Homo sapiens: one gene and its partners. The protein of the gene in region 1 purifies or fractionates together with the protein of each later gene. This does not show direct contact. Each region holds a gene or a part of one and is shown on either strand. Other genes may lie near its edges.

Region 1 (8,148 bases):
TTAGAGCTGTCACATTTTCAGGACTGACAGGTGATGGTGACAAAGTTGCCTAGATCCAGCCACACTCATTCCTCCTCAGCCCAATCTTGGAGGGGACCACTGAAACAGAAGCTTTGGACAGAGGGGCAGCTTCTCACACTCAGCCCCATCCCAAACAGGACCCATAATTTCCAGCACCTCCTACCCCGCCTCTACCCCACATTTAACCTACAAGTGAATGGTGCATCCATCACCCATCTGGTGGCTAAGGCCAGAGACCCGGATGTCCCCTTGATTCCTACCTCTCTCTTCTCCCCCTCATTGAGTCAAGAGCAAGAGCTGCCAGTTCTGCCTCCCACTGGTGTCTAGATTCATCCCCTCCTGGAATCCGGAGAGACCAAGCCCCTTTGGCATTCACCTCCTCTCCCTGCCACTGGTCTAGTCTGTGCCTTGATTATGTTCTCTGTGTACTGCCCTCCTGCCAGCCTGACTTTCCCAATGAGTTTTGGGGATTATGACATTTTGACAATGTACAGGATAACATCTCATGTCCATCTCACCAAGGTCCTTCCTGCTCTGCCCTTGGTTTCCCCTCCATTCTCACCTCTCACTTCCCTTCCCTGCCCCTTTGCAGACTCACCACCCCTCATGCCCCAGAACGCTTTTCAAACCCTTTAGAAATGGGCTGTTTTCTCTTCAGGAAGGCCTTCCCCTGCTGTACACCTGGCAACCTCCAAGTCATCCTACAAACTCTGATCAGGTGACAGCCCCAATCCCCTCTCTCTAACCTGCAGCCTTGGCGGCTCCTTCTCCTGAATGTGCTCACAGTAGGTTTTATAGGCCATCATTGCAGCAATTGTGCATAATGGCTAGTTTGTCTGTGCTTCTCTCCTCCACATTTGCTTACAAGCACTTCGACGCCCAGAGCATAAGGTTTCATCTTTGTACCTGCCAGTTATCTAAACTGGGGCCTGGTACACAGTAGCCATTCAAATGTTTGTTGCATGAATAAATGAATGAAGTCAAGGTGTTGATACAAGGATCAAATCCAGACCAACTTCACCGTCACTTTTTCTCACTACTAGGCTGAACTGTCACAATGAAGGCATTAACTGGAAGCTGCATGACCACACCTTATAAAGTTTTCCAAATCCCAAAACCTCTCCCTGCCTCCTCTCCAGTGACAATGTGGCTGCCACTCAGGGCTCCAGGATAAATCAGTCTCCAAGTGCCTCAAAGCAATACAATAGACTGAACTCATCAATGGCCCCTATTGTTAAGTCCTAACTGAGAAGAGAAAGTACTCTGCAAGATAAAAGGTAATTGTTTGGAGGTGACTTTGAAGTTCAAAGGTCTTTTTATCAGAGCAGGCAAATGGTGCACCTACACAATAGGTATAATTTATCCTCATATTCCAATGAAACACTTTGGCCTTTGGAGGCCCCCAGGAGCACAGGGATGGCTGTGTTCTCTTTCATGTGGCAGAACATGAAGATCCTCCACCCCCAGGAATCAGGTTCAGGGAGATCTGAGACCTGGTGCCCAATAGGCAGGACTGCTGGTTTCTTCCCCAGCCCTGCCTCCATCTGGGACCAGGCTGCCTGCTGGGTCCTCTGTGCAAGGACCACCAGATACCTCCGCACAGTGCCCAAGTGTTTCCTCAGGGGACCCGGGGAGGGTGTACTAAAATGCGCCGAAGTTTTGTTTCCCGGGTTTGGTTCCTGACTCAACTGCCTTTAACAGCCCAAGTCAAAATCCTCCACCACCAAGAGAACCCTCCAGCTTTTTGCCCCCCAAACAAATCAGTTGCCAAAGAACTGAGTGCTTCTGCAGACATCTGCTGCCAACAGAAACGTTTCAGGCGAACCGTTTCCATTCCTGCTCCCTCGTGTTTCCAATCGGAAACTGCGTGTCCCTTTTCAACCGGATTTTTGTATCCCTACACTAGATTTTATTTTATTTTTATTTTTATTATTTTTGAGATGGAGTCTCACTCTAGCCCCGGCTGGAGTGCAGTGGCGCAATCTCGGCCCACTGCTACCTCCGCCTCCCGGGTTCAAGCGATTCCCCTGCCTCAGCCTCCCAAGTAGCTGGGATTACAGGCGTGTGCCACGACGCCCGGCTAATTTTTGTATTTTTAGTAGAGACGGGATTTCGCCGTTTGGTCAGGCTGGTCTCGAACTCCTGACCTCAGGTGATCTCCCCACCCCTCCCCCCGCCTCGGCCTCCCAAAGTGCTGGGATTACAGGCGTGAGTCACCGCGCCCAGACTCCTTACGATAGATTTACAGGGCGATTAGGCAAAAGGCAAGACCACTGCGGCCGAGACCAGGAAGCAAGCCTGTCGCTCGCCTGCCCCTTCATCTTTTATCCATTTATGTTCATCCCTGAGATTTTCTTAGCGAGTGTCTCAAGCCCTTCTCCCCGGGAGTGGGGGATCAGAGAGAAACTGCGAGAGAGTGGGGAGGAACTCATGGCACTAACAGGCCACTGTGGACAAACTCTTCTTTTGTGCACTCTCCCCTCCCTTCTGATGCAACCTGGGGGAGGGGGCGGGCCCTCGCCGTCCTGGCTCCCGCGGCCGCTGCCACGTTCTCGCCTCCCCGCGAGAAACCACCCCGGCCGGGGCGCGGCGGCGGCGATCTCCAAGCTGGGGTCCCGGGGCCCTCCAGCAAGTTAGCCTGAGCCCCAGCGCCGAGTTGGGCAGGGCCCCATCCTCGAGGCCGCGCGCGCGATTTCGCTTTCGCTTTGGCGGTGGTATCCCGCGTGGCTCTCGCCCAGGCGGCCCTCGGACACCTGCGCCGCCCCCCACGGGGCCCTGGCCGCGGCCTCACCCTAGCCTCTCCTTGCTCTCGTCCGGGGTGAGCTGGTCGAAGGTCTTGGAGTCCTCCTTGCCCAGGAAGGCCTCGTGGTCGTACTGGAAGCTCTGGTTGTCCTCAGGGGGCCGCTCGCCCAGCTCCGAGTCGGGCCGCACCACGCGCTCTTTGCGCACCGTGGGCTTGGCCCGCAGAACCCGCGGCGCCAGCACCAGCGCCAGCAGCAGCCCCAGGGCTAACCCCAGGCGGCGGCCGCGGCCACCGCGCGCCATCGTCCCGAGGAGAGGGCGGCCGAGAGGGAGACGCTGAGCGAGCGACAACAGCGGCAGCTCGGGAATGGGGACTCGGAGCGCGGCGGCAGCGACAGGGTTGGGGCCGGCGCGGAGGAGGGGACTGGCCAGTCCCTCCGCCAGTGCCCGCCCCGAGCCGGAGCAGAGGGGCGCGCCTGGGCCTCGGGCTGGGAAGCTGCGGGCGGCCCCGCTCGCGCGCCCATTGGTCGCTGAGCTGCCGGGGGAAGCCGGGGCCGCGGAGCCACGTCGCCAGCTGGGGTGGTGGGCGCGGGGCTCGTGTTTCGCCTCGGCCCCTCCCCGCGATCTTGTTGCTAGGGGCGGGCCCGGGCGAACTGGGCTAGGGACTGGAGGGCTCGGAGGAGGATTGGGAAGTTCTTTGTCAAGCAACAGATGTGCAGGATAAAATTCCCTCTGACTTCCTACAGTTCCGGGAAAACTGTAAGGAAGGAGACGTTGCCCTTCCTCAACTTCCAACTGAGACCCCGAATCTCAGCCCTAGACCCTGCTCTAAGATGTGCTCTCAAACCCAATTCAACCCCATTTAGTAAAATTTGGAGTCTGGTTACAAACGCGAGCCTGGAAGGAGACCAAGACGGGCGAAGTCCCCTAGAAACGAGGGTCGTACTGTCAGTCGTCAAGGAGGGTCAAGCGGGGAACTTCTATATGACCAAGAGTCCCTCTAAAGGGAGCGGTACTGTGCGTTCCAGCTGCCAGGGGAACGCAGGCCCCACGCTGATAGATAGTCCTGTTTCCCAAATGAAATCAATCAGGATTTTAGATTTTTATGTTTTATTTCTAAATGTTGGTAACTCATTTTACAAAAGCACTAGTTGGATCCAATCTTACCTGTATTCAGTTGGTAATGCTACCAATACAGATATCTGTCCCATCAAACTTTCTGCAATGATGGAAATGCCCTCTATCTGGTCTGGCCTGTAGGTAGTGGCTGTTGAGCACTTGATGTGTAGCTTAGTGTAAGTGAGGCACTGAAATTTTAATTTAAATCTAAACTTAAAGAGCCACACGGGACTAATGGCTACCGTATTGGACGGTGAGGTCTCGAGCAGTCTCAGCCTTTTGACACTCATTGAAAGCCATGATCCTCTTCCAGAAAAATGCACATACAGCTACTGACACGGGTGCTTGATTAAAGAGTCGGAGGATTCATGGATCTTTTGAAGCCCCACCTATGAGCCCCAGGTTAAGAATCCCTAGAAGGCCGGGCACGGTGGCTCATGCCTGTAATCCCGGCACTTTGGGAGGCGGAGCCAGGTAGATCACTTGAGGTCAGGAGTTCGAGACCAGCTTGGCCAACATGGTGAAACACCGTCTCTACTAAAAATACAAAAATTAGCTGGGCGAGGTGGCGGGCGCCTGTAATCTCAGCTAGTCGGAGGCTGGGGTAGGAGAATCGCTTGAACCTGGGAGGCGAAGGTTGCAGTGAGCCGAGATCATGCCATTGCACTTCAACCTGGGAAACGAGAGAAACTCCATAAAAAAAAAAAAAAACCCTAGAAAACTGAAACGATAGTTGAAGAGGGAAACCCACCATGACAGCTAAATATCTGTACTCCTAGAAATTTCCTCCATCTTGCCTTGCCTCCCACCTCCATCCCTGATGTTTTCAAAAAGGTCTGGGATGTGCTTCTTGCCCTTGCAATAAAGATGTCGTCGCAACATAGACGCAAGTCCCTTTCTTGGGACGCCCTCTTTCAATCAATTAATAAATCATTACTGTCTTACTACTACAGCCTAAGCACTGGACTGGGTGCTGAGGGTACAATGGAGAACAAGATAATCATGGTGTCTGCAGAGCTATAGTGTATATGAACAGATGTTCATTCGTTCGTTCGTTCCATAAACTGAGCACCTGCTAAGTGTCAGGCTGTGCTGGATTCTGGCTAACTGAGATCCATGGATCACAAGTCAGCATGACAAGTGCTCACAGAGAAAGGCATGTAGTGGTCTGGGGGTACTGAACCGATCCAGACATGGGAATCAATCAGGGAAGGCCTCCCAGAGGAAGACACATTTAAATTGAGACTGAAGGTGAGTAAGATAAGCTAGATGGAAGGATGTAGTTATGTGAGAGAAGGATAAGATCCTGTACGAGCTAGCAGAGGACAGCTCCACATTTGAGGCAATGTCTTTGTGACCCCACTGGCTGGCAGTGAGAGCTGGGAAGCCAGTCCTTGGATCCCCGCTTCTCTTCCTAGTCCCCTTCTTTTCCTTGGATCCCCCCCTTCCCACCAGCTGACTTTGCATGGCACAAGAAGTACTGTGCCTGAGACCAGACATGCTTCCCCCAGCCAGCCTAGAGATCTGAATTTCTAGCAATAGAGGAGCATTACCTTGGGGGTGTAAGAGCTCCCTGCTGAAATGCAAGTGTCCTAAGGTAGGCGGTTTAGTACCTTCTGTGCTCATCAGGCAAGCAGGATATGAATTGTTGAGTGAGTGAGGGAGGAGAAGGAGGAGTGGGAGGAGGAACAGGGAGAAAAAGATTGGGGCTAGAAAAAGAAGGGGACTAGGAAGGGAACGGGAAAGCGAGTGGAGACTGGTGACAGTTTTTGCATATTCACAACTTTGGCCACAGGCTGGCCTGGGTCCCTGGGATTGGTCCAGACTCTCCAAAAAGGCATATCTTTTGCCCTTGTTATAGTTGGCTTCCTGCCAGACACTGGTGGTTTCCAACAGTTAGATTGTTTCAGAGGTAGTCTTGGCTCCTGTGGGAATTACCAGAGAATTCTAGCACTGCTGTGAATCCGGAAGAATTTACATAATTTCCCCTGGGCTTGCCTACACTCTTTTCCTTTATATTTATTTTCATCCCTCCACCCTACCATAAGAGTTCAAGTCCTCCCAATCAAAGGTTCAGGAAGGATGATGGGACAGAATAGTCAAGGTATTGCACTGTGTAATTGCTTTCTTTCATTTTCAAAGCTGTTTTGCATCTCCCCCCCATGTGCATGTTTGGGAAGAGTGACTAAGTGCATTGTCATGCCTTAGGTCTTAGGTTAACCTCCATTCTTGATGAAGCAGAGGAACAAGAACAAGATAAGTAACATTTAGCAGAGGGTTGATTCAGTGAAAAGGAAAAGCGAGTTTCAAATGGGTAAACTGATCAGCTTAGGGTATGCTGGTCTCCCGCATCTGGCCAAAAGTAACACCATCAACTACAACAAAAATCCAACCAGAAGTTACTGAAACAAGAAGAAAACTTTACCATCTCATGCAACAAGAAGTCATGAGTTATATTGGTTTCAGATTGGTTAATTTCAGTGGTTTCAGGACATCATCAAGGAATCAGGTTTTTTTGTTTTTGTTTTTGTTTCTCCCTCAGAAACAGTAGGGGAAAGGAATGTTCTCTCCCTTTCTTTGAAAAATAAACTTTCCCAGCAGACTGTCCCTCATATCTCATTGGCCAGAATTGTGTCATGTGCCTATGCTGGATCCAGTGACAGGCATGGGGAATAGAAATTCCATGATTGATTTCAACCAATCAAGACTCACTGGTAGGAGCTGGAAAGTACTGTATGTAGCATCCTCTGAAGCACATGATTAGGGTTCTGTGGGCGAGGAAGAACAAGCCAAATAGCTGTGTCTGCCACATGTTTAAAAGCACTTTCAGCATCTCTACCTCCCTCCTGCTTCTCCACCATTCAAAATTACATGAACTTTTCAGGTCCCAACTCAAATGTCACCTTCTCCATGAAGTTTTCCCTTATACCTTAAATCAGAATTAATTATTTCTTCATCAATATGCCCAGAGCCTTTGTATCTCACATACTTCTCACAGTCAGCTTTGTATTAATTTTTCTTCCCTTCTAATTCTGAATTCCTTGAGAGAAATGATCACAGCCGATTCATGTCCATGTTCGTAAATCCAGGGCCTACCATATTTACTGCCTTCTGGCAGAAGTTGATCGCCATAAGACAGATTTGCTGTGAGACCAGGACCATATTCTTTTGGCTCACCACTGTATACTCAACCTAGTATAGTGCCTGGCTCATAGTAGGTGCCCCTAAAATATCTTGAATGAATGATAAAATAACAATAGCTACCAACTTCTGCTTCTGGTCAAGATGGAGTGAAGGAGGGACTGGATTTATCCTCCCATTTGAAACAAACAAACAAAATATATGAAGCAACAGTTTTCAAGACACTGGACACCAGGCAATGAACAACATTGGAAACAAACTAGGTGAGTCCCAGGATTACCCCAGAATTACCTTGGCAGAGTTGCCAGGTCACTGTGCAGAGAGGGAGAACTAAGATGGATCCTGGCAGACTCCTGAAGTTGAAAAGACAGAAGTGAGTGTCCAGAGAGACCAAGTCAGCCGTGGTTCTAAAGAGAGAGTACTGGAGAGAAGATGGCTGCACAGAGAGAGAATCCCAAAGCTCCACAGAGGATCCCCTTGGCCATTCAGCAAAGTGGTGAACAGTGCATGCGTGTAGGCTGAGGACTGAGCCATCTGAAAGGATTAGAAGGAACAGTGGGTGCCAGGCATGGTACCTGTTCCCATCAGTCAGACTGGAAAAACTCATCATTCATGGGGCACTGGGTACTTAGTAAGGTCTTGCCTCAGTGGTGGGGAATAATTAACCCTAGACTGAGCACTGCTCCAGAAAGTGCCTCTCAAAGCACAAAGGCAAGACCTGAAAAGCTCAAGAAAACATACAAGAATTAAAAAAAAAAAAAATTTGGCACCCAACAAGGTGAAATTCACAATTTGCATTATCCAATCAAAGACACAGCAAGGCAGGAAAACACAGCGAGGAGAATAATCGGTCTGTAAAAACTGACCCAGAACTGACACAGATATTAGACTTAACAGAGAGGAACATTAAAACAATTATTGTAATTGTGTTAAATGTTTTAAAAGTTCAGAAGAGCCAGAGAAAATACAAAAAAGACACAAATTGAAAGCCTAGATAGCAAAACTTTGAAATCTGGGATGAAAAATACACCATATAAGATTAACAGAAGGTTAGATATTGCAGAAGACAATATCTTTTTACTAATTAAATACTTTATTGAATAAATACAATAGCAAAGAATGCAT
Region 2 (8,111 bases), on another chromosome or scaffold:
GGAGGCCCCACTAGGAAAGACGGGGCCCCGCGGCCAAGGAGCTGCTGGAGCCATGCCCCGCAGATGCTGGGGATTCTCAGAACGTGCCTTGGCTGGGGGAGGACGGAGGAAAGGGTGCAGCCCCCTCAGGCCCTGTCAGAAGCGCCCCTGCCTCCCTTAGCCCCAAACCCAGTCCTTTGTGGAGAGGTGCAGTGGCCAGATCAGTGACCAGGACAAAGGTCCTCAAAGACGGCAGAGTCCACGGTGGTGCCTGAGAGCAGAGGACCAGCCCCAGCCTGAGTGGCCAGGCCGGGGTCTGAGGTCAGCCCGGCTCTCTGAGCTGCAGCTAGGAGATGGGAGACCACAGGGGCAGGCCCTGGGGTTCTGGAGGCGCTGCCTGCCCTGGGTCCCCAGGAGAGTGTGGGGTGGGGTTCTCCAGAGGGGGACTCCTGGACCTGTGACACCAAGCCCCACATAGCCCTCTGAGTGACCCTGCTGTGGCGAGGCTCATAAATGTCTGCGCTGGGTTAAAGCTATCAGGATCTTCCTCCTGCAGTGCTGGGTGCCTGGGCCACTTTCTTCCCATCCCCCACCCTCAGACCCGGCCTCTTTCCCAGGAGCCCCCACCCTGCTGCCTGGCCCCTCGGCACTGCAGCCTCAGGCTTTTCCTTTGGCTGCTTAAGGCAGCCTTTCCTCCTGGTCCCCTCCAGGCGCAGCTGCACTGGGTGACCTGGGGCCACTAGGGGCCAGACGTCCCTGGGGAAACCTTGGGGAGGGCCGTCCACCCCTCTCCAACCCACAGTCCAACCCCTTCCGGCTCTGGGTGGATGATTAACCCACAGACGGAGACTTGGTGAGATCCCCAGGGTTGGCATTTTTCAGTGGCTGCAGCAGGCTGAGCCAGTGGCCGGTTCCTCATCTCCAGCCCCAGCTCCTTCAGGGCTTGGCTGGGGCAGGGAGGTCCAGAAAAAAAGCCAATGGGAGCTGCTCAGCTCCTGCCTCAGGCCTTCCCTGGTCCGGCCTCTCAGGAAACCCTCACAGTGGGCCTGCAGTCCGAACTAGTTCAAAGCCCTCGGCGGCTGTCCCCACCCAGGAGAGGTGCCCTGTGCTCTCTGGGGGGGCAGTCCCTGACCTTTCTGGCTCACCCCTCTCCAGGTATGGTGGGCATGCTCAGGAGCACATGCTGCCCATCTGCAGAGTCCCCAGACTTGGAAGCTTCTTCCTGGGCCTACACCCGGGCTCTGCACTCCCTGGGGCCTCGAGGTCTGGGCTGGACACATCAGCAGGGAGCTACACCTGGAGGTGGCTACTCAAGCCTGCCCCCGTCTCAGCAGGGTACACGGGTCGCCCAGTGAAGAGTGTGCATAGACAAGCTGCATCACTCAGCCCTGCACCCTAGGGGTACCACAGCCCCGGAGGCCCTGGCCGCTGCTCTGGGGACATGAGATCTTCCCAAAGTCTCAACCCAGCCTCTCCTTCTGCGGCTCCCAGCTAGGGCTCCCTGGGCCCTGCCTCCTCCCGCATACCGAGAATGGAGCCCCTCAGCTCTTGGACAATGATGTGCAGGTCATCCACGTCCACAAAGTGCAGGTGCTTCTCGGCAGGGGCTGAGGCAGCGGCTGACAGCTCCAGGAAGTTGCCTCGGCCGGTGCTGACAATGAACACGGTGACGCCCAGGTCCTTGAGCTCCTGCATGGGGGGGCCCACAGGGTCGCTGGAGCCGCCATCTGTCACCCACACCAGCACTTTGGGCACCCCTGGCCGGGCACCTGATGCTTCAGCAAACAGCTGTTCCTTGGCATAGACCAGCGCCAGGCCAGTGTGGGTGTCACCCATGCGCTGGGCAGAAGCACGCACCGCATCCTGGGCAGCCTCACCCGAGCTGTGCTGGCCGAAGGGGAACTCGGTGTATGGCCGACTGCCCACGTGCACCAGACTGGCACGCAGGGCCCCGGTGCCCAGGGGCAGTGGAGCCACCAGCTGCCCCACAAACTCCCGAACCCGGGAGAACTCGTAGTGAGAGACGCTGGCTGAGCTGTCCAGCAGGAACATCAGGTCCCCTCGGGGGGCTGATGCTGGTGGACCTGGGGGAAAGGAGGAATGCTCAGCCTCAGGTGTGGGCCCCCCAGACAGCCCCACAGCAAGGCAGGGTCCCCCAGGGCCCCAGCTTTCCTTAAGTGGATGCTTGCCTTCTCCCAAAGGTCCTAGGTTGGGGGAAAGAGGAACTCTAAGCAAGAGGCCTGTACTTTTGGGGGTTTCACTGCACACTGGCCATGGGATCTAGGGCTCTCTCTGGGCTTGTGTTATCCCATCTGTGAGAGGGCGACTCTCCGCTCCAAGCCCCCACACCTTCCCATTCCTCACAGACCCTGCAAGCAGGTGGAGCCAAGAGTCCTGGCCTAGGCCCCCAGGACAGGCCTGAGCCGTGGGGCTGTTCCCTCCAGGCATGGCTTTCAGAGGAGCAGCCTGAGGCTGGAGTTCAGCCACGCAGCTCAGCCTGCAGGTGAGGCACCCTGGGCATGCACACAGCAGCAGGGGAAGGTGTCGGAGGCACAGCAATGACCACGCCGGATGGCCTGGCTGGAGCCCAGACCCCGCTTACTAGATGGTGGCCCCTCCCCTGGCCTCCATCCTCCAGCCCACCTGGACTCACACAACAAGATATAACCCCCAGCAGCCTGAAAGCCGGAACAGCCCCTCGCAGGCTTCCCCCTTCCTCCGGGCACCTCCGGGGTGGAGGCTGATGCCCCCTACACCGCCCCTCCCCACCAAGCCAGGGCACCAGCGTGCCTCAATTCTAGTCCCGGCCTTGCGGTTTTCCCCAGTGCGGTGGGGCGACTCCAACTTCCCTACCATCCCTCCACTAAGGGCCCTCGCAAGGGTAGGGAAACTGAGGCAGGGGTGCCCCCTTGACAGACATCTCCCTCTTCCTGTCCAGGCCCGCGATCCCGCAGAGATGCGGGCCGGGACGGCCCCTATGCCCCGGCGCTCACGGACGGTGTCGCCTGGAGCACCTGGGCCGCCAGCCTCAGGTGAGCAGGACGCTCCGCCCGCGCCCCCGCCCGGCTCCCGCAGCCTCCCAGCCCGCCCGCCCGTCCGGAGCAGGGGACAGCGACGGCCTTGCGCGGGCAGCGGCGCAGAGCGGTCACCAGAAGCCCCAGCCCCGGCCCGGCCGCCCGCCGCACTCACCGCGCTCCGCGCCGCTCCGCGCCAGCGCCAGCCGCAAGCTCAGGGCCAGGCCGAGCGCCGTCCAGGGGAGCATCGCGCGCGAGGGACGGGGCGCGCTCGGCAACTCGCTCGCTCGCTCGCTCGCTCGGGGCTGCAGGGCGCGTCACCGCGCGGACCAGGCCGGCCCCGCCCCCGGGAGGCCCCTCCCCGAGCGGCCACACCCACGCCGAGGCCACGCCCACGCCCTCCGGCGCGAGCGGAGGGCCACGCGCACAGACCCCGGAGAGGCGCGCACGAGCGGACCCCGACACGCAGGGACACGCAGCACCAGCCGAGATACGACCGAGGCACGCACGCGCAGGCACGCACACACACACACTCCAGTCTCCCTCTCCCGGCCGAGGCTGTGCGGCCCACGCTCTCCACCCCTCTCCGACCCCCAGCCGCGGGAGCCGAGCAGGGAGGTACCAGGCTAGGCCCTCCCCATGCCCACCACTGCCGTGACTCTGGGTGCTGGGGTCCCAGCAGCCAGGCCCAAGAGAACCCCAGGGGCTGGCGGTGGCACCAAAAAAACACGTCCAGACCGTGGTTTCGCCTTGGCCTCCGCGCTGGAGGCGGATAGGTGTCTGGAGTAACAGGACATGTATCCCAGGGACTGACCAGCAGGGATGGGAAGGACCATGGGGTGGAACTTACAAGGACACAGTGGCTTGAAAGGGGACAGAAGACAGGAATTCGAGAGAGACTCGAAGCACCCACGCCACCTGGGCTTCTTGGAGGAAGAGGCATGGGAGTGGGAGATGGTTGGTTGAGGCCCTGTCCAGTGGGACCACACTGGGCCTGTTACCCATATACCCTACCCAGTGAGGGGCCCAGACTCCAGGACCCAGGACACACCCCCAGCAGGACTGGAGGGTCCCACTGGTGAGACAGGAGCTCTTGAGTCTTGGGGTCTTGGTGAGGCCCAGACGAGAGGTGGCTGGTTGCAGGGGGCGTCCTGAGGGACAGTGGCTCCCAGGGCAGATTTCCCCTGCTTGGGTGGGGCTGGGCCAGCAGTGTCCCCTGGACAGGAGAACCCTACCCCGGCCCTCCCTCGGAGTAGCCATGGCCCTCTTCCAGGGCCTCCTCAGCTCAGAGCTGGGAGGTGGGGGACGTGGGGGGGTGTCTGCCAGGATGTCTCCTCCTTCCCCACCCTCTCCTGGAGGATGCGCCGCGGGAGAACGGATGGGGCTCCACAGGCTTCCTTCCTCCCTTTCAGGCAGGTGAGACACCGCGGGGCCGTGCGGACGGCCAGCACTCGACTTTGCCTAAAAAAGGAAGCAGCAGGCTGAGGCTGAGGAGCTGGCGGCAGGAACAAGGGAGAGCTGTGTCCCCGCCGGCGCCCCCCACCCCCCCTGCCGGGGATCTTGGCAGTGGAGGTGCTGGCTGCGCTCCACAGACCTCAGACCTCGGCTGGGACCAGAAATGCCTGGTGCTTCCGCCTGGGCCCGGTGGGGGGACTTTGGGTCCCCAGAGTGCAAGCTGTACCACTTCGAGGGGCCTCGCCAGGCCCCCCAGCCCCCAGTACACAGGGGCTGCCGTGGAGATGACGCTGAAGGCCGCAGCCGCTGGAGGACCTGGGGTCTGACCGGAAGCTGGCTGCAGACCCTGCGGAGGCACGTCCAGGTAGTCAGGCAGGGAGCTGGGCCGAGGGTCCCCCACCCTGGGGAGGCTCACAGCCAGTGGCCCGCTTGTCCCCCACCCTCGCCCAGCAGGCGGGCCACAGTCACACCTCAGCCAGCCTTGCAGGGCTGACGGGGAAGTTTCCCTCACTTCTGGAAAAAGTGAGCGGGTCTTCTTGGCTGTGACTCAGGCCCTCAAGGAAGCGGCCGCCCTCCTCCCTTCAGCTCGCCATCAGCGGGAGAAGGCACAGGAGGCCTGGCCTCCACCCAGCCTGGGCCGAGCTCAGCCACCTGCCTTGCTCCCGGCTCTGCCTGGAGTCCCTCCAGCTAGGAGACCCTCCCCATCAGCTCTCCCCGTGCCCCTCAGTCTTCAGGACTCATTCTTGTGTCCTGCCCTCCCCCCGCTGTCTCCACCCCGGAGGAGGGACGTGGACAGAGGGTCCCAGAGAGCATGGGGTCAGCCAGAGGTGCAGTGTCAGGGCCCGGGCCGGACTTGAGGCAGACACCGGAGGAAGCACAAATATAACAGCCGGAACCCTCCACTCTCCAGGGAGAAGGGCCCGGGGTAAGAGGCAGAGGCAAGGACGGGTCAGGCCAGATCACAGTGGGTGCTGGCCCCGAGCCCTCTGCCTCCTGCAGGCACAGCCCCTGTCTGATCCTGGTGGCCTGGGGCCCCATGGGGTGGGGAGCAGCCTGGTTTGGCTGCGGCCACCCCGCCCCCACGGTCTGGGCCTGGGCTGTGGGAGTCCCTGTGCCTCACTTCCCGGAGCCAGCCTGCCCTGCCGGTCTGTCTGCAGGCAGGTGGAGAGAGTTCCAGGAAGCTGGGGAGGCTGCTGTCACCCGGGCACCGCCCCTGCCCCCACCCGCCTTTGGGAATGCTCCCTCCTCCGCACAATCCAGGCTTCTGCAGAAGATGAAGGGCCTTTTGTCCCCAGCTGGCTGTGGTCATGTTTGACCCTGGGTAAAAGGGCAACTCCTGAGGCCTCTGACCCCACCCCTGACCCGAGCTGAGGGCAGGACGCCCAGGCCCGCACCCGGCGCCTTTTGTTGCTGTTTTCACGTATCTCACAAACGTACTCAAGCACACACAGGAGCAGATGGACGGGGCGGTGAGGGGCAGCAGTGGTGAGGGGCAGCGGCGGTGAGGGGCAGCGGCGGTGAGGGGCAGCGGTGCGGGCCTGAGGCACTGCTCTGGGGTGTGCCTGAGCCCACCCCACAACAGTAAGTGGGGCAGAGCAGGGGTCACCAAGAGAGCAGGGCCCACGCAGCTCCTAGACTCAACCTGCTCACTGGGGTCAAGGACAGGTCTTGGGGGCCTCGGGGGTCACTTTTCACTTCCCAGGAGCCCAGGCCTGCCCCTCTGGCCCCAGAGCTGACCCCCCTCAGTCCCCCGTGCCAGCAGCAGCTGGGGTGGCGGGTAGACACCTGGCGGGTAGCAGCCTGGGTAGGGGTGGGAGCTGCACCATCTGCGTCTGTCCATCCATCCCTCGTCTGTGTGCTGGGCACAGCCGCGCCCCAGCCTCAGTGCTGGGGACACACAGGCGCCGGGCCAGCACTGCCAGGCTAGGAGGGTGGGCGGTGAACAGCTAGGAAAGATACGGTCTACTTGTTTTCCCTGTGAGAACAGGGGGTCACTGGGGACTCGCACGCAAGGGGTACCCGAGGAAGAGCCTTCCAGGCAGAGAGAAGGAACCGCGAGTGCTGAGAGCAGGGTGGGGTGGGCAGGAGGGGCCTGCGCCAGGACTGCAGGGGCAGAGCAGGCTGGGGGCCTTCGGGAGGGGTGGCCGGGTGGAGGGTGTTGCCGGCCTCGACAGGGGCAGGAGGTTCGTCACAGCGAGGACAGAGCCCGGCCCGGTGGGAGCCGGAGAGCAGCAGGCCTGAATGACCCAGGGTTTCCTAATAGCAGGGCCCCTTCCTTGTGTGGGTCCCCTCACTTTGCCTCTCTGCTGGGACATCCTTCCCTGAAAGGGAGAGGAGGACCACATGCTGCCCCTTCCCCAGACACAGTCCAGACAGGCCCAGGCCACAGCCCTGGGCAGACGCAAAACTCCCAGGGGCCTGGACTGGGATAGGGAGGAGGCAGCAGGGAGGGACTGACCTATGTCCACACACCACAAGGGACTCCCAGAGGCGGGTGGGGCGGAGCTGGGAGCAGGGGCCTTAGCCCTCAGACCAGCCCACTCACCCTGGGGAGTTCCTGCCCCACAGCCTGCCCAGCTTACAGGCCTGGGGGCAGGGGCAGGCCAGCACAGGCCGGAGGGACAGAGGGAGCCACATCTGAGGGGTCCCCCAGCTGCTCACACCGTCTGAGGCTGTGCTTGCCAACAACTCTGCTCCCAGGAAATATTTTGCAAATCAGGAAATGACACCGGGCAAGGTGGGAAGCCCACTGCATCCAGTGGGGTGGGGCCCCTTACTGCCTCCCCTGCTCCGGCATGACGTGTGACAGGGACGCAGATGGGACACACACAGCCACACACACACACTCCGGGCTCCCATTTGGGCAGGGCAGGGGCCTCAGCCACCGGGAAAGAACGCCAAGCAGAGGTCCCCACAGCCACCCTGCAGCTCGGCTGCACCCAAGGAGTTCAGGCCCCTGGGCCAGTGGAGAGCTGTGGTAGAGACTGCAGGAAGAGGGAGGCTGCTCCTGGCCCTCAGGCTGGGGGAAGGGGCTCTGGGGGAAGGGGTGTAGAGGCACCCTCAGGGTGGGGGCGGGCCTGGGGACCCAGGGTCCTGAAGTGGAGGGGTTTCGGTCAGGGACACCATGCTGGGCAAAAGTTGGGAGAGATTCATGGGGTCCAGGTGGGGTCCTGCCCCTGCAGGGGCTAGAAGGGCTGGGCAAAGGCCAACTGTATACCTGGGGCCTTGAGGAGGGGAACCCTGGCTGGGGGCCCCACCTCCCCCTCATTTCATGCCCCCCTCCTGGCTTCCCAGATGGTGGCCGATAAGGGAGCTGCTTAGGATCCATGGAAGGGGCCAGGCAAGAACCCGGGGGAAGAACCCAGGGGCCTCAACGCAGGGCCCGTTCTGTCCTAGGGGGTGGGGCCCCTGCCTTCCAACGTGGGGCCTCTTCTGTCCTGGGGGTGGGGCCCCTGCCTTCCAACGGAGGGCCTCTTCTGTCCTAGGGGGTGAGGGGGTGAGGGGGTGAGGGGGTGGGGCCCCTGCCCCGGCACTCGGGCTCTGGCCTTCCTGAATCGCCCCTTCCTTGCTTCTCTTCCGCCGGCCAGGCCTCTGCTCTCCGGGGCTACGGCCTCCCACAGGCACGTTCCTACATCCCTCTGTGAACCGCCCACAGGCCCCCCC
Region 3 (7,317 bases), on another chromosome or scaffold:
TTAATCCCAGAGAATTGCTAGTATCTATTTCTAACAGGCAATGCAACTATTATTAGTGAACTTGTTCTTAATAAGGAAAAGATTTTCCAGCTGATCTGCCTACTGAGGCATCAAGTACTCAGAGTGCTCAACAGATATTAATGATAATAATGTCAAGCTTCCCTTCTTCATGCAAGTTTCAAAGCAAGTCTTATGAAAATAAACATCATCCAGAATTTATGGATGTTTACCTCTGAAAAGCACAAAAAGGTATATAAATGGTATGTGAACCATACAGTGAAAAACTATAAATAGCCTGACATCAAAATCTAACAGGAAAAAAAAAAATCAAAAGAAAAGGAAGAGGAAGAGGAAGCCAGAAGAAAAACACTAAACTCAATATAGGCAGGCAAAATTATACAAAGAGGCGGTAAGGAACTACGTGGTCTGTTGCTTCCCACAGTCATGGAGGATGCGGGTGTGGCCGGGTGGGGAAGTCTCCCTGGGACTCACCTCCATCAGAGCCATAGCTGGGGCATGCCTGAGCCCCACGCCCCCTACACCCCTAAAGCAATTTTCTTACACCATGAAAGCAGCCTGAGCAACTGTGGTATGACCCAAACGACTGAGTAGCTTTCTCCCTACTCCCTGCAGCATGGCTGCATTGCTGTTGGCAAGATGGATCATGGCCACAAAATGAAGAAAACTTGTATGAAAACAGACTAGTTTGGGGCACCTTATAACCAAAAGCTAATAACCTTTCTTACACTTTTTCCCCAAATCTATCTTTCTAAAATTACTACCCATAAATTTCTACAGGTCGAGTATCACTTATCCAAAAGCATTTCAGATTTAAGATTCTTTGGATTTTGGAATATTTGCACTATACTTAACAGCTAAGCATCCCAAATCTGAAAATCCGAAATCCAAAATGCTCCAATAAGCATTTCCTTTGAGTATCATGCCATCACTCCAAGAGTTGCAAATTTTGGAATATTTTAGATTTCAGAATGTCTGGTTAGGGGTACTCAACCTATAGTACATTCTTCTACCCAAAATCTAGCACCAATCCCAATTTGAAATGATAGCATTTGCTTTCTGCCCAAAGCCCAATGGGGCCAGTATTATCACTGTATCCAAAACTTAAGATGAATGATAACATGGTCAATGACTACACCTCAGATTTCAGAAAACCGTTTTCTAACAAGACAATACATGAAGATTTATCCTACCCGAAGTCTTCTGTGGAGTGTCTTTATTTCTCTTTCCATGTCGTGCTTTTGGTCCTGGAGTTTTTTAACTGTATCTGAAAAGATCACCAAAGTTTAAATATCTATTCTCACAACAATCTTCAGAGTAATAATACAAAGAAAAGGGATACTTAAATATGACATTCGAAAAAAGTTATCCTGTCCAAAGACTATAAAAAATTTTAATACAAAACTTTAACAGAAAAAATGTTAAATTCAAGTAATAACAAATATTACTTTCTTTGGAAAATATCAAGTTAAAAATCACAATTTCTAAATCACTTCCTTCCACAGTATCTTAATTTTGAAACAAAAAGTAAAACCGTTAGAAATTCACTTTGTTGGTACATAACCAATCAAAACAATATTGACTGTGACTACAATATGAACTTTTAATCACAAGTATTATTAATCTGCAGTATTTATATAAGCATAGCTTTCCTTACACACTGGAATAAATTCCAGAAAAGAAGTGAATTAGTAAAATCAAAATTAGTAAAAAATATAATACTCAGGGTAGCTGCTGTTTCAATTAATTCTATAAAAATCTTTTTAAAAAATAAAGAATATATTTATAAAGTAAATCAATAATTCCTCAAATTATTTATCCGATAATGTGAATTTTCTTAGAACAATTTCATTCACTCTAAAAACATTCAATGAGCACCACCAATAAGATGCAAAGTACCATTCTAGATAGAGTGAGGATACAAGGATGAAAGTGTAGCACAGGCTAGTCTCCCTGGAACCAGAAACGTAAAGGGAAGTCACCTTCTCTTTGGAGGTTCTACTCTAAAATCCATGCATAAGAGATAAATGACTTAGGAGGGTGCTATGCTGATAGCTGCCACTAAGTAAACCGCTTACGGCTGTGTTACTTTGACAGCTCAGGAACCAATCACTTTTTGGTTAAGGGCAAGAAAGGGTACTTACACAACTGGTGGCAAATCCTTTACCCTGATTTACCTACAGCCCCACCCCAGTAGATCCCTGGCTGTTGTGTGTGTTCCAAGTGTGTCTTACACAGCCTTGTACCATGTTGCCGCCAATATTACCACATCTCGACACATCTGTCTCGACCACTAGACTAAAAACACTTCAAAGGCAGAAGAAGCCATGTGATGACCTCACAGACTCAGTAGTTGGAATATGGTATCTTTAAAATGGAATAAATTTATAAATGTGCCAGCTAATGGTAGCAGTAATAAAAAGTAATGCTGAAATCGTTACCTAGGTTTTTGTTTTTTTTTTAATAAGTATCCTATTGACAGAACTTAACGATTTATCATTAGGGAAAACATAACTATAGACATTAGTGTTTCTGGGTAAATAACATTCTCTCCCATTCCTTATACTTAGTAGCAGGAATTCAGGCATAGTGAACACCTGCTTGCAATGACACATGTAATCAAAAAATTCTTCCTCTAGCTAACACTTTATTGGCTTTTAATTAGGACCCTAAAGTATGAGTATGCTGATGTTCTTTCTTTCTTAGATGGCTCATCATCTTCTTTACCCCTGTTCCACTAGAACCTTCTCTTCTAAAATTTTTTTGCCATTATGCTTTACATTTGATGTTGGTATATGTGTGTTCTGATGTTTTTTTTTTTTTTTTTTTTTTTTTGAGACGGAGTCTCAATCTGTTGCCCAGGCTGGAGTGCAGTGGCATGATTTCAGCTCACTGCAACCTCTGCCCCCTGGGTTCAAGCGATTCTCCTGCCTCAGCCTCCTGTGGAGATGGGATTATAGGCGCCTGCCACCACGTCCAGCTAATTTTTGTATTTTTAGTACAGACGGGGTTTCACCATGTTGGCCAGGCTGGTCTTGAACTCCTGACCTCATGATCCACCCGCCTCGGCCTCCCAAAGTGCTAGGATTACAAGCATGAGCCACTGCACCCAGCCAGTGTTCTGGTATTTTTAAATGGCATGAATTCACTTTAACAACATAGAGCCTAGAATATTTACAACAATTATATGTGGAATAATAATTATTACAAATAAATAATAATGCTGTATTTTCTAAAGCTGGATCAGAAATAAATGGGATAAAACGTTGGCGGCAGGGGCAATTCTGGTAGGCAGTAGTTAACTTGCTCTCATTCACTGCCCCAAAACTGTGTAACAAAGTCAGGTCCTGTGAAATAAAAAGGTTCAAAATTTACTCTTTAATTTGATAAATGTGTCATATGTACCAACTTTGTACCAGGCTTTTTTCTAAGTGCTTAAGATGTAAAGGAAAGGAAAGATATAATCTTCATCCTCTTAGAGACAGAAAGGCTAGTCTTGTGTTGAGACAACAAGGGTAGATGACTTCATAAGCAAAAGATTAAACTTTAAAGCCTGTCTCACACATAAGGTACTTCAGACTCAACCTGCAAACGAAGAGTCAAACAGGCCATCTAATCTGGTTTGGGTAAAGCAGACACCAAGCTGAGTAGACGAGTCTAATGCCCTGATCCTTATCTCTGGAGGCAAGGATGGCTCTGGAATCAGCAAGGGAACTTGGTTCCTTGCGACCTCACACATAGACAAATTCAGGGTTTTGGACATAAGACGAGGAGTAAGGACAGAAGCTGAAAAATTTCTAATGTTGAAAACACTGGGAGTTACACCTTTCATTTACATTGTATCAATTTATATGCAAGAAATATTTCATAATCAAAACAGGCGGTCAGGCGTGGTGGCACAGGCCTGTAATATCTGCTGATCACCTGAGGTCAGGAGTTCGAGACCAGCCTGGCCAACGTGGTGAAACCCTGTCTCTACTAAAAATAAAAAATTAGCCGGGTGTGGTAGTGGGCGCCTGTAATTCCAGCTACACAGGAGGCTGAAGCAGGAGAATCGCTTGAACCCGGGGGGCAGAGGTTGCAGTGAGCCAAGATGGTACCACTGCACTCTAGCCTGGGCACCAAGAATGAAACTCCATCCCAAAAAAGCAAACAAACAGCAAAAAACAGGCAAGCAAACAAAAAATGTTAGGAGTGTAATTTCTCTTGAAATTTGCTGAAAATTGTTTTCTTTTTCTTGTCACAAAGGACATGACACATCTACTTACTGTTAAACATAATACACACATGACAAATGACAGCAAATCTCAGGACAGCTCACTTTTAACATTTGGCATTTTGATTCTCAGGTGACATTTTAAGCTACCTGGTCATCTTAGACTGATCATAAATTCTCAAGTTGCATTCATTCCTTTGCTCTTTTTCTCTTTATTGACCTTTTTTCATTCATGGCCACAGAATTCACATAATCACTGTTCTTTAAAAGGTGTTTTTCTGCCCCCGGCACTACATTTTTATTACTGTCACCTCTTATAAATAAATAAATAAATAAATAAATAAATAAATAAATAAATCCATTTAAGTAAAAGGGAAAGTGGCAGCCAGTGGAAATACTCAGACAGAATAAAATGCACTAAAAGTGTCTGTAGGGATTTGATTTAAACTTTACAATCTCTACAGTCATGACTACGTTTTTACTCTGAAATGGAATGTATTTTTTTTTCCTGGAAACAAAGGAATTTGTGCTTAAGTTCTTGTTGTGAAGACTAGTTTGCAAAACTGCCATCTAGCACGATTTGTGGTCACACAAGAAAGCAGCATTACTCTTCAACTCTCGAACCTCTAACAGCAGTTTCCTTCCTCTTCAGTGTTCCTACTGTGAGGGACACTGCCATCTACTGTCTTCAACTCAAAAGCAACATTCAAGTCGACCAAGGAAAAGAACTACTACTATGATCTTCCTATTTTTAAATTACAAATTATAACTCAATTTTTACAATGTTATTTTTATTCTAGAGATCAGGCAAACTGCTGTTCTCAATGTTATTAGACCAACTTTGTTCTGAACAACTCTGGGCACTGCCCTACTCATTTAATAATGGGTTCATAACTTTTGAGTCCCATTATTGATTATGAACCCCATTATTCTCTGACAAAAAATAATCCATTCTCGCTCTGGTTATATCTCCATCAATCATGCTGATATTGCCAGGCAGTTACCATGGACACAGGATCAATCTGTGACTTTTTCTTTTCTGTTTTGAAATAAAGTCTCACTCTGTCACCCAGGCTTGACTGCACTGGCACAATCTCAGCTCACTGCAGCCTCCGTCTCCTGGGTTCAAGCGATCCTCCCACCTCAGCCTTCCAAGTAGCTGGGATTACAGGCACCTGGCACCACACCCAGCTAATTTTTGTATTTTTAGTAGATACGGGGTTTTACCATGTTGGCCAGGCTGGTCTCAAACTCCTCAACTCAAGTGATCTGCCTGCCTTGGCCTCCCAAGGTGCTGGGATTACAGGTGTGAGCCACTGTGCCCAGCCTGGTTCGGTTTTGAACTCCCAAAGTGCTGGAATTACAGGCATGAGCCACCGTGCCCAGCCCTATTTTATTACTAAATGCAAATTATCCCCGCATGTTTAAAAGAGTAGGACAAAAAAGAATGAAAAGTTCTTATCACTTACTCTCTAGATCAGAAATAATGAGGTTGTCATGAAGTTTCACAGCACGATGTTGTTCTACTTCATCTTCAAGTTCAAAGATGGTTTCTTTCATGTCACTCCTTTCTGTTTCTTTTTCATCCAGGTCTGATCTTAATTTTTCTAACGTCATATTCAAATCTTCAATTTGTTTCTTAGCTTCTTCTTGGAAGGCTCGGTATTCATCCTCTACCTACGTAAAATTGACGATGCAGATTTAGAAAAGTTAAGAGTTGTTCTAAGGTACGTTCCAGAATTGAGGTACACACAGTTTCCAAGGGGAGCTAAGTATGAGGCACTATGGATAAACTAAAACAACCTGTGTAATAACTGTTAAAAAGTATGAAAAAGCACTCCATGGTAAGATTTTATCTAATACACTTAAACTGTTGCTGTAACACTGACTGAAATTATATTGATGTATCATTGAACTTAACCTGATTATTTACAAGGAAACTTTGGAAATTTTCGTTTCTCCTAACTTTGGACTGAAAGCATGTACGTTTGTTTAATGATTAACATGTTGTCCTAACAAAAATGATGTCATATTTGTGACGGTTCCAGTATCAAACTGAAAAAGGGAAAACAATTCTCAAATAGTGTTTTTACAAAAGTATTAGTTCACAGTAGCCTCTCAACATGTATGTGCCAAGAACTAATACAAATCTCCTAAACTGTAACTTTAAAAGTGATCACTAAAAACACCCTAAAATCTAAATTACTCAAATTTTAGCCAAAGATATATGAAAATTTATTTTAAAATCATTGCACTAAAATAACAAATAAATAAAATGTAAGCTAGAATAACTAGTATAACTAGAATAACTCATGGAAATAAACAGTTCATCAGCAACCACATGGGGTATAGATAGATCCCTGGCCAGAATGCCAGTGGCCCTGGGTAGCAGTTCCAACTGAGTCCTCACTATTATGCTGGAGGCATGTACAACAAGGGTCTGGACTGATAATTGCTAAGGTCCCTGCCAGCAATAAATCACAGGCCTCTGAGAAACAGGAGCCTCTATATGCCAAAAATATTTTTTAACTATCAACAGATCTCTATTTGAAAAACTATTACTATAGCAAGATAAGAGGAAACATGCACTGCTGATGCTACAGACTGGAATACTGACTCTCCACCTATTACACCAAAACAGATTCGAGATGAGGCGGGGGGAGGTAAAATTTCATGACCCGCTCCATAGGAATACTCAGAACTAGGGACAAATTCTGGTTTTAGCTGTAATACCAGCCATATCCTCTCACAGGCAGGAAAACAGAAACAAAATACAAGTGAGAGAAAGTGACATTATCTTAAGAATACTTTTCACACTATTCCAATAAAAGGAAACCATTCCCAAGTTTTAAAAATATCAGTTTTAAAAAAAAGCTAATAACACACCAAACCAAACCAGTAACCCAGGTTCTCAGTAAACACTGTGCATGGCAGCTGCCTAATGCTGTCCGGAACATTTTAATCTATTTAAACAATACCTTAGCAATGGCATCCTGTAATCGATTGGCATCATTTCGGGTATGAGCCAGATCTTCCTGCAAGCTACTAGCCAAAGTCTCTGCTTTTTCTTTGTCCAGCCTGAC

Evidence for each region. The genes of interacting proteins can lie anywhere in the genome.
Region 2: the proteins of RCN1 (region 1) and VWA1 purify together in Homo sapiens (affinity purification with mass spectrometry; 3 studies listed by BioGRID and IntAct, with this or other methods). This does not show direct contact.
Region 3: the proteins of RCN1 (region 1) and SPECC1L purify together in Homo sapiens (affinity purification with mass spectrometry; 3 studies listed by BioGRID and IntAct, with this or other methods). This does not show direct contact.

Annotation. Positions count from the first base shown.
Region 1 is NC_000011.10:32,086,115-32,094,262, reverse strand, and holds the start of RCN1 (reticulocalbin-1 precursor), read right to left. Parts: upstream 3,190-8,148; 5' UTR 3,067-3,189; coding exon 2,813-3,066; intron 1-2,812. UniProt on the Homo sapiens protein: May regulate calcium-dependent activities in the endoplasmic reticulum lumen or post-ER compartment.
Region 2 is NC_000001.11:1,430,879-1,438,989, reverse strand, and holds the start of VWA1 (von Willebrand factor A domain-containing protein 1 isoform 1 precursor), read right to left. Parts: upstream 3,301-8,111; 5' UTR 3,242-3,300; coding exon 3,169-3,241; intron 2,064-3,168; coding exon 1,506-2,063; intron 1-1,505. Other genes in the region: uncharacterized protein LOC107985729, read right to left, coding at 3,840-4,454, 4,588-4,794, 4,919-5,027, 5,702-5,757. UniProt on the Homo sapiens protein: Promotes matrix assembly. Involved in the organization of skeletal muscles and in the formation of neuromuscular junctions.
Region 3 is NC_000022.11:24,322,814-24,330,130, reverse strand, and holds part of SPECC1L (cytospin-A), read right to left. Parts: coding exon 7,213-7,317; intron 5,912-7,212; coding exon 5,704-5,911; intron 1,286-5,703; coding exon 1,212-1,285; intron 1-1,211. UniProt on the Homo sapiens protein: Involved in cytokinesis and spindle organization. May play a role in actin cytoskeleton organization and microtubule stabilization and hence required for proper cell adhesion and migration.